Linked DNA regions of Homo sapiens. The protein of the gene in region 4 purifies or fractionates together with the protein of the main gene of each other region. This does not show direct contact. Each region holds a gene or a part of one and is shown on either strand. Other genes may lie near its edges.

Evidence for each region. The genes of interacting proteins can lie anywhere in the genome.
Region 1: the proteins of REEP3 (region 4) and CREB3L2 purify together in Homo sapiens (co-immunoprecipitation; one large-scale study listed by IntAct). This does not show direct contact.
Region 2: the proteins of REEP3 (region 4) and TAX1BP1 purify together in Homo sapiens (co-immunoprecipitation; one large-scale study listed by IntAct). This does not show direct contact.
Region 3: the proteins of REEP3 (region 4) and RAB3GAP1 purify together in Homo sapiens (affinity purification with mass spectrometry; one large-scale study listed by BioGRID and IntAct). This does not show direct contact.

Annotation. Positions count from the first base shown.
Region 1 is NC_000007.14:137,880,087-137,883,586, forward strand, and holds part of CREB3L2 (cyclic AMP-responsive element-binding protein 3-like protein 2), read right to left. Parts: intron 2,543-3,500; coding exon 2,326-2,542; intron 466-2,325; coding exon 390-465; 3' UTR 1-389. UniProt on the Homo sapiens protein: Transcription factor involved in unfolded protein response (UPR).
Region 2 is NC_000007.14:27,788,662-27,792,161, reverse strand, and holds part of TAX1BP1 (tax1-binding protein 1), read right to left. Parts: intron 157-3,500; coding exon 1-156.
Region 3 is NC_000002.12:135,058,792-135,062,291, reverse strand, and holds part of RAB3GAP1 (rab3 GTPase-activating protein catalytic subunit), read right to left. Parts: intron 1-3,500. UniProt on the Homo sapiens protein: Catalytic subunit of the Rab3 GTPase-activating (Rab3GAP) complex composed of RAB3GAP1 and RAB3GAP2, which has GTPase-activating protein (GAP) activity towards various Rab3 subfamily members (RAB3A, RAB3B, RAB3C and RAB3D), RAB5A and RAB43, and guanine nucleotide exchange factor (GEF) activity towards RAB18.
Region 4 is NC_000010.11:63,524,401-63,527,900, reverse strand, and holds part of REEP3 (receptor expression-enhancing protein 3), read right to left. Parts: intron 1-3,500. UniProt on the Homo sapiens protein: Microtubule-binding protein required to ensure proper cell division and nuclear envelope reassembly by sequestering the endoplasmic reticulum away from chromosomes during mitosis.

The DNA of each region.
Region 1 (3,500 bases), on a different chromosome or scaffold from region 4:
CAGAGTCTGGGGTCTTGACTGAACAAGAGCCATCTCGTCTCCAAAGCGGGGGGTTACACCTCACAGGTGCACATTAGGCAATATCTTTTTGGCACTATTGGTGGAAACAAGCCTGCTTGTCCCACCTCCAACCCCTAAAATAATTTCCTATGGCAGTAAGAGAAAGGAAGGGAGGGATGCAGGCTCCCTTCTGCACAGGAGGGGCATGGACCAGGGGGAGATGCTCTCTCACTGCAGGGAAGTCCCAGGCTGGTCTCCAATCTGAAGCCACTAATGCTTGCCCATGTCTCCATGAAGATCCAGTGGCAAAGAGGAAAAGCTGATGACAAAGGTGGTTTGGGGATGTAAAAGTAGAGTTAAGGGAAAGGGAGGGGGTGCAGGCAGCCTCTTTAGAAAGTGGTGTTCACTCTTCTGTCGAGTTCTACAACTTTTAGTGTTTCATTCCCCTCCAGTTTGGCGCTGACCCTGTGAAGGCATTAAAAGGAAAACGAAGTATTAGTCACCAGCTGTTAGCTACAATTCTCATGCTTTGTAGCGTGATGCAATCATTCAGGGGTTGCAACTTGGTGAGACGGCCTGGGCATGTTTCTTGTCCTTTTCTCTCCTAGTAGCAATTCTCTGTTTCCAAAGTCCCCTGCTACCAGCCTCTCCACTAGTCCACATTCCTACCTTTATCTACACCCAAGGCATCCCAACCCTACTAAGGATAATCATGGTGGCTTGATATTGATCTGCTATGAGATGCATTAAATTATTCTATTTACTTAGGATGTTTAGCCCTATGCTAAACTCAGGGAAGGAGAAAATAAAATGATAAGAGCTGATCCTTGGCCTAGAAGAGCTAATAATCCAGATAAAGATTTTTAACAATGAGCTAATTTGAAATAATAATAAATCCATAACAGAAAATAAATACATTATTAAATTGTGTAACAACCTGGAAAATTTCTAGGCATTCAGAGGAGGGCTAGGAGGCTTTGTTATCTAGGAGACATCACAGAACAAATGGGATTTGAAGTGGGCCTTGAACAGCTTAGCTGAGAGAAGAGAAACTGTGTCCAGAGCCAAGTAAGAAGGCACTGGGTCTTCTAGAGATCCCAGCGGTGGCTACATTGGCAAGTCTCTCTATGACGGGAATAATAATGATGCCTTACCACATGGGATACTTAAAAGGATTTGTATGATACTGTTTCAGTAGCCCTCATCCGAAAATCTAAAATCTAAAATGCTCCAAAATCTAGAAATTTCCGAGCATTGACATGACGCTCAAAGGAAATGCTCACTGAAGCATTTTGCATTTTTGGATTAGGGATGCTTAACTGTTAAGTATAATGCAAATATTCCAAAATCTGAAATCTATAACACTTCTGGTCCCAGGCATTTCAGATAAGGGATAGTCAACCTGCCTCACATCTGTAAAGTGCTTAAAATAGTAAGTGCTAGTAAATGTTAAATATGTATGTATAATGTACACACATAAAAGTACTTCATTATAAACCTTCCCCTGCAGAATTAGGGGATGAAAGCTGAAGAATCTGAAACAAAATCTTTCCCATTTACATCGGAACGGCCTCATTTCTGGGAGGCATAGGAGCAGAGTTCAGCTAAATCACCAACCATGTCACACGTAACCAGGAGCATGCATGCAGGCCCAGGGACCTCCCCTATTACAACAACAATACCTTGCAGTCGCATAAGCCTTTATGTTTACAAAGGGATTTTTCCCAGAAACTGAGAAACAACTCATGTAGAATTGGAGCCAAATAGAGGTTGTTCTCAATATGGAAATGTGTGCACAGTGCCTCTTAAATGGTACCCCTCAACATACATCTATAAGTATAAAACTATAATATGTATAGTTTTAATTAACACATGTGTATTTACATATAAATCATAAACATATATTGACATATAGCACAATATATATCTACTCCCTAGTTGAAGCCATGAAACATGTCTTAAAGTTGGATTTGCACAGCAAACACACTGTGGTTACCTGGGCTGTGCATTCACTCGTGTGGCTTGGAAGGGAGGATGGAGACAGTGGGGGAAGGGATTCAAGCACTTCTTTGTGCCACCACGCCAGCTCCCCGCTGATGCAGCAGACATAGGGGAGCTCACGCTGGTTTTTTTCCTCATCTCTGCTCAGGGCAACTGTTGGCCAGCAACAGACTCTCTGCAGTCCCAGGTCCTGGAAATAGGTCCTGAGAGAGCTGAGGGACTGAACCAGGCCTATGGAGAGTCTCAACCTCACATCTCAGGTTGCTGACTCATAACCCACCATCAGTGCACTAGAGGAGTTGGCTCTGTGTCTCTATGACTCACAGGTGCTGCTGCAGCTCCAAAAGCACTGACTTCTCCAGGCTGGTCTCATTCGAGATAATGAAATGGGGAAGATCCACATCCGGCCTGGACTCCAGCCCTGACACCCTGAGCAGGGAGGAACCTCTATCCCAGCCCCCCAGCTCCCCAGCCGAGCCCGGGCTGGATGACTCCTCTGGGGGAGAATGTTCCTCGTAGATCAGCAGGTTTCTGGATCTCACTGAGGACAGAGCAGAATAATAAGGTGTTAGCAAAAGACCACAGGGGTCCAACACATTCCCTCACTCCAGGTGCTCAGGGCTGGTGGCAGATGACAATGTGTGTGTTCTCGTTGCCCAGAACCATGGGTGCCAACAGAATTTGGCTTTCTATAAAGACTTTAGAGCTTCGGAGTTTGTGCATTGAAAAATTATACCAATTATACAGTGCTGGAAGAACAATAGAAAAGCAAATAAACACAAGGCAAACTACCACCCCCACTGCTTTGAAAATATAAAACTCCCCCCTTACCACCCATAACCATCTAGGGAAAATGATTCATGGAGAATGGGAGTGGAATACTTGGAGATGTCCAGACCCAGCTAAAAGAAGCAGCATTCCCAGTGAGTAGGTCTGGCAGGGGGATGAGGTACAGGGCATCTCATTTAGAAAGGGAAGAGGAGACACAAAGCCAAAGCCATAAATCAAAGGATAGAGACAATCTCCTTTGTTTTGTAGGACAGTCACACAGCTAGATGGCTCTGTAGCAATTTTCCATGACATAGAAACTATGCTTCCAATTAAATTTAGAGAGATAGTTCCTTGGGGGGAAAAATTCTCAACAGGCCACTGAAATTATTTAATTGGAATGCTAGCACTTCTGTCATACCTGGCAGAGACACACCTGCCTGGTGAAGACCACAGACGTTTCAAGATGGCAAAATTTTCCCTATCCCAAATCCAGTACAGTAGTCCTCCCTTATCCATGGGGAATACATTTCAAGACCCCCAGTGGACGGCTGAAACCGAAGATAGAACTGAACCCTATATATATGGTATAAGGTATATATGTATGGGAAAAACCATACAGGGTTTATATATGGGCATATAGCATGTAGGGTTCATATGCCTTTTCCTATACATATGTACTTATGATAAAGTTTGATTTAGAAATTAGGCCCAGTAAGAAATTAACAATA
Region 2 (3,500 bases), on a different chromosome or scaffold from region 4:
GTTTTCCAAGCGTGCAGTATGCAGGTCTGCCATCGTTCTGTCTCGTACGTTGACAGCATCACTGAGTTCTTTAGCCAGAAAGACAACTTCTTGCCGAGTTGCCTGAACCTGTTCCTCTGCTTTACGAAGTTGCTCCTTTAAAAAACAAGTATCTTCCTGAAGAAAGCAGATAAATATATTTGTAATTCAACCACTCAAGTAAAAAACAGAAGCAGAAACAATTTTCGCACATATTTCAACAGGGCCAAAATTTTAGATATTGGTTTTTCTACTCATGACTTACAGAGTATATGCCTACAAAAAACTTAAGAAGTAACTTTGTTTTAGGTTCCCTCTATAACAACCCTATGTACTTGGTTTCACTGCTACTACTTTATACACAAGGAAGCTAAAGTACAGCGAGTCAGGCAACATACCCAGTGCTTAAGGACCTGCCCAAACTGAGGCTCAAACAAAAGATCCCATCCCCCAGAATCTCTTCAGCTAGAAATACTGACCCTCATTTTGTATGACTACCAGTAAAAATCATTCCGAAAGCTTCTTTGTAACACCAAAAATTTTGGTTAAAAGATGTTTCCTACTTTCTACCCCAAGAGACATCCAATATAATATAAATCTATTTCATATCATTATAAAAACACAGAACAGATTTAGGCCTTAGTTCTAAAAACAAAATATTGATATACAAATAGTAAAGACGAGGCATTGGGAAAATGAAAAGTAATTCATACTGCTTGACAAACCTAAAAGTATCTTTAAAAAGCTAAAATTGCCATGGTGAAATTATTTCCTTTAATATTAATGTTTAAACATTATAACATTTAAACATTATAAACACAATAAATTTAGTTTATTCAACTTCCTGTTTTTAATCTCTGTACTAAAAATAATGTAAAATCAGGAAAAAAATGCAACCCAATATTGGTTTCTAAACTGTTAGCCCCTTAGAAGGAAATGTAAATGATGATTTTATGCAGTGTTGGCATGGACAAAATCTTCGGAGGCATCACACTAATAGATCTACCTATAAAAAGATCGCCAACTTCTATATGTCAAAGGAGAAGAAAAAGAACTAGAAGAAAATTATATGTAATATATTCAAGAAAGGTATAATAATACTTGATATAAATAACTTTTCTAGTCAATAAGGAGAAACAAAACAAAAGTCAAAAGTCATGAACATACAAAATTTTCTAAAGAAATAAATGCGATTATGCAGTAAAAAAATTCAACTCACCAACAATCAAACAAATAAGTTAAAACAAATGCCATTCACCTTTCAAACTAACAAAGATCAAAAAAACAGTAACATTCCAATATTTGCATGGGTTTAGGGCAACTGGCACATTCACAAACAGGTGGGCTTATATAAACTGTAACTGGCATCTTTTCTCATCAGATATTTACAACATTCATCAGCACCTTAAAAATTCTCACAGCTTTTGATCTAGCAATTTTATTTCCATAAGTTTCCAAGAAAATTATCAAAGGGTATAGACATAGGTTTAGCTTTACAAGGATTCAATAAAATACTAAAATAATGAAAAATCATTAAGAACCTAAAATGTCTACCAACATGAGAATTTATGATAAACTATGATATACTACCTCTATATAATCAAAGTCTGTGCAGACATTACAAACAATACATATCTCATATACTCTTGGTGGGAATAAAAAAATCAATAGAACATTTTTTTGAAAGGTAATTTGAAAATAACTATCAAAATTTAAATACTCATTGACCCAGTAATTCCACTTGAAAGAACTTATTCTACGGATTATAAATGTGCCTACATATTGCTATAAGGATGTTTACTGCAGGATGCTTATAAAAGCTGAAGACTATAAACAATCAAAAACAATCAAAAAACATATACTACACAGTTGTTAAATGAAGAGAAGAAATACTAGGCAGTTGTTATGATGAATGAAAAAGATCCACATGTGTATCATAGTGCAAGATATCCATTTATAAATTTTTTTAAAAGGAAAAAATGTATAAATTCTAATTTGTGTTAAAATATAAATATACGTATATTCATAAATTCAATAATAACTTACTTATCTGAGAAGGGATGAGGATTACATTTTACTTTGTATCCTCATGTACTGTTTAAATTTTTTTATAACCATCACCTCAAACTACTTTCACAATCTTTTAAAAGCTTTAGCAACTAGTAGTCATTTTTCTCAGGTACTTCCATAACTACGCTTTTCCTCACAGAAGTCTTGCTTAAATAGGAAAAAGATGCTTAGAGAAATTTTTAGCATCTTATTAAATAACAAATAATCAAATACACTTCTCATGTTTGCACTGGCAATCTGTTACATTAAAAAGTAACAAGGATTAACCATTAATTCTAAATGTCATGCGCTTCTGACGTTTTAGGTATTACATTAACTATGTCTGAGTATTTTTAATAGCAAATTACTAAAAATAACATCATAAGAAATAATGAATCAATCAAGGTAAATCTATATAATGGAATATTATGTGGCCATTTTTTTCAAATGAGGAAGATCTCTACAAACTGATATGGAGTAACTAGCAACTTATTTTGTTCAGTGAGAAAAAGGTGCAAAATGGTATGTATAGTAGCGCTACCTTTTTTAAGAACGAAGAGGATAAAGAAGGATGTATGTACATGTACACATGCATATATAAGCTTATTTTTACAAAAAGAAACATAAGAATAAACTAGAAACTTATGAAAATGTTTATCTATGGGCATAGGTAAGAAAAGGGTTTAAAAAAACAAGGAAGAGATTGAGACCTCAGAGTAAAATTTTTCTATCATTTTGACTTCTGAACAAAGCAACTGTTTTACATATTCAAACAATAAAAATAAATCAAACAGAAGAATAAAAGCAAATATTAAAATTAAATACAAGCAAATGAAATTATATTACAAATTTATAACATAGGTATGCAAAAAAATAGTTCAAGTAACTTTTGAACATGGCGTTTCTATACATCCTTAGTGAAACATATTCTAAGAAAAAAGAGCTGTAAAAATACCTTAGCTTTATTTAGTACATTTATTGTTGGAAGTGGCATTGATGTAATAATTGTGAAAACACTGGTGTGTACGGCTGGATGGAAACACATGAGTAATAATGATGTTTGGGAAACAAGAGTTCTCACATTGCGAGAAGAGAGATATAAATATGGAATGGAGCAAAGGAAGGAAGAATCCTAAGGTACTAAATCTGAATTGGAGCTATCAATATAAATTAAAGATGCAAAATACCCACTGAATGTGCAAAGCAGCAGCCCCATAGTAGCAATAGGATCCAGTTCTTGGTTTCAAAATACCATTACCTACTAAAAAAAACAGAGTTTCTTGGAGAAATGGTAATATCAGGTCTGGGGGAACAACCTGAAGTTAGAACATACAGTTGTGCCATAAAGCAAGAAAGTATTCAAAGCATTATAGGAACATATCAGGACAAAAAAGCAGGCTTGAAAAGGTTCCCCTGGTTAAATTCAGAACAAT
Region 3 (3,500 bases), on a different chromosome or scaffold from region 4:
GCCTCACAACAATGTGGCCCAAAATGTCAATAGTGCCAAGGTTAGGAAACCTGAAACTACAGTAATCAAGACAATATACGACGGGCGCAGTGCCTCATGCCCGTAATCCCAGCACTTTGGGAAGCCGAGGCGGGCGGATCAGCTGAGGTCAAGAGTTCAAGACCAGCCTGGCCAACATGGTGGCAGGAGGCTGCAGTGAGCCAAGATCAAGCACTCCAGCCTGGGTGACAGAGTGAGACTCTGTCTCAAAAAAAAAAGAAAAAGACAATATGGTATTGACATAAGGATAGTCAAATAGACTAATGAAACAGAATACAGACTCCAGAAGTAGACCACTTAGGTCAACTACTCAATAAAGGTGACAAAGCAACTCAATGGAAAAAGTGTTTTCCAAAGTAGGTTCTAGAACAACAGGATATCCATACACAAAAAAAAGGAAGAAGAAACTTGATCCCTACTTCCCTCCATATAGTAGCTCAAAATAAATCATAGACCTTAACAAAGGTTAAATGATAAATTGGTAAACCCTCTAGAAAAATGCATTAAAAACATCTTCACAACCTAGCAAAACTACTGAGAAAAGACTTAAAAGCAGAATATATATATACCAAAAAAAAACTAAAAGAACTCCTACAACTCAATAAAAACAAAATCCAATTTTTAAAATGGATAAAGAACTTGAAAAGACATTTCACAAAGGAAGATAAACAAATGGCTAATAAATGCATGAAAATTCAAAGTGGTCAATATTAATATCATCACAGAAATACAGACTAAAACCAAAATGAGAAATATAAATTAAAAGCACAAACTACATACCCATTAAGATGACTAAAATATACATGACTGCAAACAACTGATTGTTGGTGAGAATGTATAGCAACACAACCTCCCATGTATTGATGGTGGGCAGGTAAAACAGTACAAAAAGCTCTAGCTGTTTCTTATAAAGTTGCACCTATCCTATTACCCAGTGATTCCAATCCTAGGTATTTACTCAAGAGAAATAAAAACATATGCCCACAAAAGGCCTCATACAATAATGTTCTGCTTTATTCCTAATAGTACGTATGTGGACAAGTGAAAGAAACCATGTATATTCATAAAACAGATCACTTACTACACAGCAATAAAGAGAAATGAAATTCTGGTATGTACAACAACCTAGATGAATCTCAAAAACATTATCGTGAGTAAAGGATGTCAAGGACATTTATGGTCACCTAAATGTAAAGTTCTAAAGCAGGTGACAGTAATTTATGTTTATTTAAAAAAAAAAAAAAAAAAAGGCTGGGCCCAGTGGTTCACACTTGTAATCCCAGCACTTTGGGAGGCCCAGGCAAGCAGATTGCTTTAGGCCAGGAATTGGAGACCAGCCTGGCCAACGTGGTGAAAATACAAAATACTAGAAACACAAAAATAGCCAGGCAAGGTGGCATATGCCTGTCGTCTCAGCTTCTTGGGAGGCTAAGGCATATGACTTGCTTGAACCCGGGAGGCAGAGGTTGCAATGAGCCAAGATCACACCAATGCACTCCAGCCTGGGCAACAGAGCAAGACTCTGTCTCAAATAATAATAATAATAACAATAATAATAATAGCAGATGACTGGAGGGCATGGGAATTAACTAGAAAGGGTCACTAAGGATCTTCCTGGGGTAACAGAGATGACCTCTATCTTGACAGGAGTGTAAGTTATACCCATGTGAACATTTGTCAAAATCAAGCAGTTGGCCAGGCGCGGTGGCTCACACCTGTAATCCCAGCACTTTGGGAGGCCGAGGCGGGCAGATCACAAGGTCAGGAGATCGAGACCATCCTGGCTAACACAGTGAAACCCCGTCTCTACTAAAAAATACAAAAAATTAGCCAGGTGTGGTGGCGGGTGCCTGTAGTCGCAGCCACTTGGGAGGCTGAGGCAGGAGAATCTCTTGAACCCGGGAGGTGGAGGTTGCGGTGAGCTGAGATCATGTCACTGCACTTCAGCCTGGGCAACAGAGCGAGACTCGGTCTCAAAAAAAAAAAAAAAAAAAAATCAAGCAGTTAAGTTTTGTCCATTACAATGTATATAAATCTTACCCAAAAAAAAACTATTAAAAAAATCTAGTGGAGGTAGGGGAGTAAACAGAGGTACCACTCAAACAAGAAATGGCAAAGTATTAATTGTTGACATTAAGTGATGGGTACATGGGAGTTCATTATACTATTCTGTTTACTTCATATATGTTTGAAATTTTCCATAATTAAAGGTTTTTAATAAATAATTTCCCTTAATTCCCCCTCAGTGGAGGAGAAAATTAATAATCACTGTCCTTCATATAAGTTAAAATCTTCAAAGGAAGTCTCTAAACTTTGTTTTCTACACCAAACAATCCCTGTCCTCTACACTTTCTTCATATTCATCATAGTTACAGCTCACCTTGAAATCTGCCCATATTTTCTGTATCTTATTTATGTACTACTATCTAGTAGGGAGAAACAGACTGGAGCTATGACTTCATTAGCCTCTACTACATGCCTGGCAGTATGCTACCTACTTTAAATAACTACCCACTTAAATCCCAAAACTGAATTTAGCATCTAAAACTTTAACCCTTAGAGTGACTTTAGTTAACACTAATTGACTGTACATTTCAAAATAGCTAAAAGAGAGTAACTTGCATGTTCTTAGCATAAAGATAAATATTTAAGGGTTCCCAAGTACCCTGATTTGATTATATGCATGTATCAAATTATCACATGTACCCCAAAATATGTACATCTATCATATATCAATTTAAAAAATAATAATAAAATAAAATTTTAATGTTTCTTTACTGATCACCCTCACTAGAATTTATGTTCAATGGCAACACTGATCTTATCTTGTTCACAATTTCTTCACATCAGGCACATAGCAGGTACTCAGTAAATACATGTAAATCAAAGAATGAAAGAATATCAGAGCTCATAAGTACCCGGTTTAGCTCTCTTCTTAGTAGTGTAAATCATTTCCTATTCTAGCTATATCCAGCTTATTTTGCCTCTAATCTTATTGGCATCTATATCAATTGTTATGTATTTGTTTCAAGTGGAGTAGAATGACCCGTGTTTGAAAGCGTCACATTTTCTTTATTCACACATGTAGTGTAGTAAATCAATGTATATATTGCCAAGAGTCTTTGAATGATGTATTTTTTATATGTGGTCTTACTTTTTCTGTTCATATTGATACAAATAAGGAGATTTTTTTTCCTTAAGAGACAGGGTCTCACCATGTTGCCTGGCTTCCTAATGCATTTTGACAGTCTCTTTTTTGATAGTATCACCATCACAAAGCTGAAAACCCCTAGCAAATATTGAGAACTCAAAGTTCCTAACACAGGGTAAATTATAATTAAATTACTATTGAATTAATAATTACTGAGTTAATAAGTTATCACTGAGTTAGTAATATTGAGTTGTAATAAAACCAACCATAAATTTTATTTCAAAAGAATTTATCTAACAAACTAAGCATC
Region 4 (3,500 bases):
AAGTGAGCAATTGTATCAAAAGCTGCTGATAAGTCAGATGAGGATCAAACAGTTTGGCCAAGTGGCGGTCACTATTGATCTGAGAAGGGCAATTTCAGTGGAGTGGAAGGAGAGAAAAGTCTAAACAAACGTATGGGTTCCAGAGTACCCTGAAGGAAAGAAAGTGAAGATGGTGTATAGACTATCCTTTTTTTAAAAAAATTATTTTTCTTTTTTTTTTGAGACAAGGTCTCACTCTGTTGCCCAGGCTGGAGTGCAGTGGCATGCTCATGGCTCACTGCAGCCTCAACATCCCAGGCTCAAGTGATTCTCCCACTTCAGCATCCACAGTAGCCGGGATTACAGGCATGTACCACCACGCCCAGCTAATTTTTTTGTTTTTTGTATTTTTTGTAGAGATGGGGTTTCACCAGGTTGCCTGGATTGGTCTGGAACTCCTGAGCTGAGGTAATCTATACGCATCAGCCTCCCAAAGTGTTGGGATTACAAGCAAGAGCCACTGTGCCCGGCTTGGACTATTCTTCTGAGGAATTTTTGCTCTAAAGAGACAGAGGGAAATGGGGTGATAAGATGAAAAGTATAGTAGATTAAAAGAGTTTTTTTTTTTAAGATGGGAGAAGTAATAGCATGTTGGTATGCTGTCGAGAAAGATCTAGTAGAGAAGAAAAAAGAGATGAAGCTGAAAAGAAGGGGGAAAGCTGCTGAAGTATGGTTTTTAAGGTGTATAATTTAGCCTTTGAAGACATCCATTATAGCACCCAATATAAATGAAGAGAATCAGAGAAAAATAATTGCGGGTTTTAAGAGTACTGCCAGACAATTAAACTAAGGTAAAACAAAAATGTATTATCATTGTAAAAAAGGGAAATATCGATATATAGAATTGAAAAGGAAGTCTCCAAATTAATCCACTTCTACATAGGAAAGTAGTACTTATCAAATATCTGTAGTATCTAATTTTACATTTAGAAATGATCAAGAAATCACAAAATAAAAAACAAAGAAGGCGAACTATATTAAAACTATAAACTCTCTATGCAACCAAGAATAAAATATCTAAAAGAAAACTGAAATTAGATTGAGAAACACATTTGCATGAAATATCACATAAGGTTAATTCCTTTATTATGTAAAAAGCTCAGACAAAACAAGTAAATTATCAAGTAACCAAGAGATAAATGGGCAAAGTATATACATACTGTATGCATAATATATATAATTAATAAAAATCTGGACAAGCATTCAACTGTGCTGATAAATAAAATACAAAAGAAAACAATGAGATATGTTATATTTATTGGTAAAGTATTAAAAAATTAAAACTTCCGATTCTGGCTACATTGTGATAAAGAAAGTACTCACACATTGCTGCTAGCATGTAAAATATTAATATTCTTTTGGAAAGCAATCTGGCAATTCATATCAATGATCATAAAAATATTCAGTGTTTGACTCAGAAATATTCCTCTTGTATTTTTATCCCAAAGAAGTATGTACTTCAAAAGAAGTATATATAATGTCCATTATAGCATTATAATTGCATTTCAGCATTACTTATAATAATGAAATATTAAAAATTATCTAAATGTAAAATTAAATACAAATAGATGAATGGCTAAGAAAATAATACTGGCCTGATCAAACAGAAGATACTAAATAGGATTTCAGAGCAACATAGAAGATGCTTATAAGATTTCAGAGCAACATAGAAGATGCTTACAATATAATAAAGACTAGTATAACATTTTTACTATACTCTAATTAAAATTATGTTACCTACACACAAAGTGATTCAAACAAAAAATGTATATTGAAGATACTTCAAACATTCAGCATGCTGGGATTTTAGGAGAGCATGTTTTTCCTTTTTCTGATAACTACTACTAGCATTTACTGAATGCTTACTATGTGCCAGATGCTGGACTATGGACATTACATATAGTAATGTATTTAATCCCATGGGGTAGGTTATGACGCATAAATGGCAGAGTTAATAGTTGAATTTGGCAATCTGGCTTTTATCTTGATCTTAATCACAATGCTAGATCATAAAAACAAATTAAGAAAAGTTAGGGAAAAAAATGGAATTTCCCTCAACTTATGAGAGTCATGTTTCAAAAGGTGAGGTGTGGATATCATATATGAATGGAACATCATTGGTAATCTCAAACTACTATCCCTTAAAAATTGGTAACTATTCATGCCTGTAATCCCAGCACTTTGGGAGGCTGAGGTGGGAGGATCACCTGAGGTCAGGAGTTCAAGTCCAGCCTGGCCAACGTGGTGAAACCCCGTCTCTACTAAAAATACAAAAATTAGCTGGGCATGGTAGCACATGTCTGTAATCCCAGCCACTTGGGAGGCTGAGGCAGGAGAACTGCTTGAACCCGGGAGGCGGAAATTGCAGTAAGCCAAGATTGTGCCACTGCACTCTAGCCTGTACACCAAGAGAAAAACTCCGTCTCAAAAAAAAAAAAAGTAACTAATCTGTCAATCTTGCCTGTGATGTTAAAGTAAGCTGAGATTGAACAGACTGTAAGTAATGGAAAAATACTTTCATATCATCACAGAATGCTAAGGCTGGACAAAAGAGCTTGGCGGTTATCAGGTCCCTTTGCCTCTTCTAAGAAATAGAACCAAGGTCTATAATCAGCAAGAGACTGCCTCAGGGTCATTCAGCTGGTTAAGGTAACCAAAGCCAGTTCTGAATTCCAAGTTTCTTGGTAACAATCCAGTGATATTTCTTCCTACACCATTTTACTCACTTCCCTCATAAAAAAGCTATCTATATATCTATTACGTTTTAAGTGCACACTCAATGCCAAGCACCACACTTCCACGTTTTAGTTAAACTAATTTAATCTTTACAACAGTCTTTTTTTTTTTTTTGAGACAGAGTCTTGCTCTGTTGCCCAGGCTGGAGTGCAGTGGCACGATCTCAGCTCACTGCAACCTTTGCCTCCAGGGTTCAAGTGATTCTAGTGCCTCAGCTTCCCTAGTAGCCAGGACTACAGGTGTGCGCCATCACGCCCGGCTAATTTTCTTTACAACGGTTTCATGTGGTATTTATTATAATGACTTAAAGGCAAGAAGACTGAAGCTCAGAAGGGTTTAGCATGCTGCCCAAGACCACGCAGCTGTAAACAGTGGTATCCAGGGCCAGGTGCGGTGGCTCATGGCTGTAATTCTAGCACTTAGCGAGGAAGGTGGGCGGATCACTTGAGGCTAGGAGTTCAAGGCCAGCCTGGCCAATATGGTGAAACCCTGTCTCTACTAAAAATACAAAAAAATTAGCCGGGTGTGGTGGCGTGCACCTATAGTCCCAGCTACTTGGGAGGTTGAGTCATGAGACATGAGAATTGCTTGAATTGGGAGGTGGAGGTTGCAGTGAGTTGAGATCACACCACCGCACTCCAGCGTGGGCGACAGAGAGAGACTCTGTCTCAAAAAAGAAAAAAAAAAGAGTGGTGTCCAGGGCTAATTTCTCTGGTGTTAAAGTG